2 separate regions of the Homo sapiens genome follow, and region 1 is linked to region 2. A link means that fine-mapping ties the variant in region 2 to the expression of a gene that starts in the linked region. Tissue or cell type: whole blood. Region 2 holds a variant in brackets; the other region holds the start of a gene. All regions are shown on one strand. Distances are between the middles of the regions.

Region 1 (2,500 bases), 240 kb after region 2:
AAACCAAGCAGTCTGTGCCCTCGTGAAGTGCCAGTTTAACAGAAGACAGAAAATAAGTATAAATAAAAAATAAAGAATAATCGCAGAGAGTGGAGAAGCACTCAATGAAAGCAAGAGAAAGATGTGATGGATAGGAACTGGGATGGGGGGAGCACGTTAGGTAGGGTGGTCTGGGAAGGCCTCGCTGAGCTGATAATAAACACAGCTACCACTACTGGCCACCTACTATGTACCTACTGGGTCAGTCACCTTCCATTTCCATTACAATGTTCACGATCCCCATTTGCAAATGGGAATCTGGAGGCTCAGAGAGGTGAAGTAATTTGCCCAAGGTCACACAGCCAGTAAATGGTGGTTTCAGGATTTGAACGCAGGTGTGGCTGCAAAGCCAGCCTCTTAATTTCTGCACTCCTGGTCCCAAGACCCTATCTGCCACCTGTCCTCCCCCAGAGCTGTAGAGTCATTCCCTCCTCAGAGGTCTCTATTTTTCATCATCCTCCCCAATCGCCCCAAAATCCTGGGTCTCAGCGTGCATGCCCCCAGCTTAGACTCCCCTCGGAAAATAATCTGTTCTTTTATAATAATTAATGCCGTTTAATGAGCAATTGTACGTGTTCTGAGCTTAACGTTCATTCTCTTATCCAACCAACTCTCAACACAATAGCAGGAAGCAGGTGCTGTCACTCTACTCTTTTTACAAGTGGGGAACCTGAGGCCTACATTCACACAGATAGATTCGGACCCAGATCTGCCCGACTCCAGGACCCAGGCCTTTGACCCTCTAAGCTGTTCAGTTTAAGAAGTACCCCGCCAGGAAACTTGGTGGACACCGTCAAGAACAAAGTCTGTGTCCATAAACTGAAATCGCATCCTCTCGCTTTACAGGTGGGGATACGGAGACTCTGAGAAATTAAGCGACTTGTCCAAGGTCACACAGCCAAGAGCGACGGGGTCAGGGTTCGAACCCAGGCGCCCTGACTCCCGAGCCCTCGCTCTTAACCACCACACGGGCTTCCCCGGGCGCCCTTCGCCGCCGCTCTCACGCCTCCTAGAGCCCCGACCCGGAGCTCGGCGCCCCGTCCCCCTGTCCAGCCCCGAGGCCTCCCGCTACGCCCCCCACACTCACTTGAGGTGGTCCAAGGAGTGGATGTTGCGGGAAGTCTTGCCATGGCCCCCGCCCACCCAGCTCCGCGAGCGGCCAAACATGTCGGCGGCCCCGACCCGTCTCTCGTCTCACGGTCTCATGCCGGACCAGCAGAGCGGCCCAGCGCCCGCGGCGGTAGCACAAGCGGAGGATGCGGCGGCGGAGGCGGTGGAGGAACCGCGAGCCGCCTTCCTCCCCGGCCCACAGCCCAGCACTGACATTCAGCCGGAACCGGCCGTTCGACCGCCGCGCTTTACGGCCGCCGCCGCGTGGGGCGCTGGGAAATGCAGTTCACCCGCGTGGCCTTCGGCGGCAGGACTCCGCGAACGGACTACAAGGCCCGGCATGCATCGTGCAACCGCGGGCCTACGGCCATCCACAAAAGGCGGGGCGAGAGGAGGAGCGACCGCAGAATCCTCCGGGTGGGCGGGAATTGGAAGCTTTGGGCGCAGTCCCGGAGAGGGAATCGGCGTAGATGGGTCAAGGAAAGTCACCACTGTAGTAACAATTACTAGATTTATAATAAGAATAAGAATAGTATTGGATGGTGTATACTATGCAAAGCCACTATCCTAAGGGCTTTACATATTAAGGTATTTAATTTTCACAACCATCCTATGAATTGGGTACTATTATCGAACCTATTTTATCATCAGGGAAACGGAGTCACTGAGAGGTTGACTTACCCAAGATCATGCAGTTAACAAGTGGCAAAACCAGGGTTCATAACCACGCACGCACCCTTATTTTTCATTCCCTTTATAAACCAAAACGGCACTAGATAACAACCTTATTTGTCCTGACAGCCTTTTTCTTTTTCCACTTCAATTAAGTGTGTGTGTGTGTGTGTGTGTGTGTGTGTGTGTGTGTGTGTGTGTGTGTGTGTGTTGGAAAAGGCTGGATGCAACAATGCACCAAACTGAACATTTTGTACTTCCAGAGGATTCCTCTGGTCTTCAGCCAGAATCCATGCTATTTCCCAAAGTACCACGTTAAAATGAAAAAGGAAACACCCAACTTTCTGCATGAGCCAGAATATATCTAACTTCTACCCTGGATTAGAAGTGGTAAGTTCAGTGTGGGCAAGACTTCTCAAGTTTACCATCCATTCATTCATTCAGTCACTTCTACATATCAACCTTATTAAAGGTCCACTGTGTCCCATTAACTCTGCTCAAGAAAGAACTGGGCCAGAGGCCAATGTTCTCCCCAGTGCCTAGCACAAGGTTTGGCACATAGCAGGTGTTTAACAAATATTGGTAGAGTGCATGAATGAGTAAAGGTTTGTTTCACCTTCAGCAGTTGGAGAAATGGATAAGAGTGGAGAGTTAATGGTTTGTCCTGTAATTCATATAG
Region 2 (2,760 bases):
GAAGCAGGACCTTCATGGCATGGGACAGTCCTCAGCCAACAGGGCATGAGAGTTGGGGGATAAATGCCTGACCTCCTGCCCCTCCCAGGACCAGTCCCAAGGCTCATCTATGCAGCTCTGCAGAGGGGCTCCAGAGAGGCTGAGTATCAAGTGCCCCCAGCAGTGTCTGGCGGTGACCAGGCCAGCTGTGCCCTGTCTACTGGCCTCCTGCCCTTCTCTCCCAGCTCCCACTCCAGCTTCCTGGGGCCACTACCCAAATAAACCAGCAGCACTGTGTCCTCCTTTCAGGCCTCTGATGTCAGGGGTTCCCCAAACGAAAGCCATGAGATTTTGCTCATGGCAAAGAAACAAAAATCCTTTGAGGTGTGACAAACGCCAGGAAAGAAATGGGTGGCAGCTGCTGATGGAGGAAAGCAGGGGTCTGACGTCAGAATAGTCCCTGGAAGTAACACTGATTCTGTGGACGGAGGATAACGACAGAGGATGGGTGCAGGTGCAGAGGTTGGGGAGGGGGCTGGAGGGAGGAAAGGCAGGTGCCAAGGTCCTGGGAGGGGAATCAGTTGAGGGGTCTTCCAGGACAGGGCAGAGGGCTTGTGTGCTCCAAGTGGTGGGGTGTAGCCAGGGTGGGCTGCAGAGGTGGGCCAGGCTGGCTTCTTATTTTGGGTGCTGTATCAGTCAGGATTCTTCAGAGAAACAGAACCAACAGGAGATACAGATAGGTAGGTAGATAGGTAGGCAGGTATAGATATATAGATTTATAGGCTGGGCACTGCGGTTCATGCCTGTAATCCCAGCACTTTGGGAGCCTGAGGCAGGATAATCACTTTAGGCCAGGAGTTCAAGATCAGCCTGGGCAACATAGTGAGACAAAAAAAACTAAATTACCAAGTGTGCTGGCGCACGCCCGTAGTCCCAGATGCTCCGGAGGCTGAGGCGGCAGGATCGCTTGAGCCTGGGAGTTCGAGGCTGCAGTGAGCTTTGATGGCAACACTGCACTCCAGCCTCGGTGACAGAGTGAGACCCTGTTTCTAAAATAAAATTAAATTAAAAATGAGATTTACAGATGCCCCTCAATTTACAATGAGGCTACATCCCAATAAACACATCCTAAGTTGAAAACAACTTTAGTACCTCGATAAACCTGTCATAAGGTTGAAAAATTGTCAGTTGAACCCTTATAAGTTGGGGGCCGTCTGTATTATGGGAATTGGCTCATGCAATTCTGGAGGCCAAGGGGTCCTAGAATCTGCCGTCTGCAAGCTGGGAGGCCCAGGAAAGCCAGTGTCGTTCCAGTCCAAGCTGGAAGGCCCGAGAGCCAGGGCCTCTGATGTCCAAGGGCAGGCGAAGATGGACATACGGGATCAAGCAGAAAGCAAATTTTACCTTTTTCCTCCTTGTTTTATTTGGGCCCTCAATGGATTGAATGGTGGCCGCCCACAGTGGTGAGGGTGATCTTCTTCACTCAGTCTACTCTTTCAAATGCTACTCTCTCCCCCAGCCCCCACTTTTTTTTTTGAGATAGGGTCTCACTCTGTCACCCAGGCTGGAGTGCAGTGGCCAATCTCGGCTCACTGCAGTGGCCA[A/T]TCTCGGCTCACTGCAGACCTCTGCCTCCTGGGTTCAAGCGATTCTCATGTCTCAGCCTCCTGAGTAGCTGGGACTACAGGTGCCCACCACCACGCCCAGCTAATTTTTGTATTTTCGGTAGAGACAGGATTTCACCGTGTTGGTCAGGTTGGTCTCGAACTCCCGACCTCAAGTGATCCACCCACCACAGCCTCCCAAAGTGCTGGGATTACAGGCATGAGCCACCTCACCCTACTGCAAATTCTACTTTCTTGCAGAAACACCCTCCCAGTCACACTTGGAAATCATGTCATGCCGCTATCTGGGCACCCCTTAGCCCAGTCAGGCTGACACATAAACTGAATCATCACAGCTGCCTCTGAGGATCAGCTGGGGACCTTAAAAAATTCCAGGGCTCAGCTGTACCCCACAGGTGCTGGCTTTGTACCTCAGGGGGTACATGTAACTGAGGGGGCCTGGGCCTGGGCTGAAGCCTGTTTTTCTGGCTGGGCCGCTGGTGAGACCCCCTGGCTGAAATTGCATGTGCCAGGCTGGGTACAGGTGCTTGATTTACCTGCCCCCACTTCATCTACACAAGCAAGGACACTGCCAGAAAGGTTCCCATTTTACAGATGAGGAAATTGAGCCTCATGCGGTTTCACCATGTACTCAAGGCCACAGGGATGGGGAGCATTGGTGCAGGGACTTGAACCTCGTCAGCAACTCCAAAGCCTGCACTGCCACCTACTCCACCCTGCTTGAGGTCTCGCTCATCACTGAGATACCAGCAGCAGCTCGGTCTCAGCTCAGATACCTGTGGAGGGTTGGGGGACACAGAATTTCTGATGGTGGCAGAGGAAAGCCCTCAAACACTCCTACCCTTGGCAACCTGGCCCGGGCAAATTCTCCTGAAGATCTTTGGCTGGCCCTGGTAAGGCCTGGAAGACACCAGAGTGAGCACACATAGGGAGAGGCTGAAAGTTAGGGCCATGGGCATGGAGAACTGAATGGAATTCAGGCTTTAAGAATCTGGAACTGTATCCAAGAATGACTCCATCCATCAGTCCATCCATCCATCCAACATACATGCACAGAGAGCTCATGGGCCAGAGCCTGCACCCAGCTCCCACAGAACAGGTGAAAATAAAACACAGTCGTTGCCTGTGGGTGAGTCTATTGGAGAGGGAGAACTGAAAT

What was found. PIP is the estimated chance that this variant, and not a neighbour inherited with it, causes the effect.
Region 1: CLEC16A starts here. The variant in region 2 is fine-mapped to the expression of CLEC16A in whole blood (INTERVAL, PIP 0.94).

The regions. Positions count from the first base shown.
Region 1 is chr16:10,943,424-10,945,923 of GRCh38, reverse strand. CLEC16A (C-type lectin domain containing 16A) reads right to left here and starts at 1,360. Exons shown (of 24, transcript NM_015226.3): 1 at 1,127-1,360. The coding sequence starts at 1,206. RefSeq lists enhancers at 1,288-1,347, 1,568-1,747.
Region 2 is chr16:11,185,374-11,188,133 of GRCh38, reverse strand. No RefSeq gene overlaps it. Among named protein-coding and RNA genes, the nearest start is that of SOCS1, 69 kb to the left of the region's middle. The variant A/T (reference allele first, on the strand shown) is at 1,584.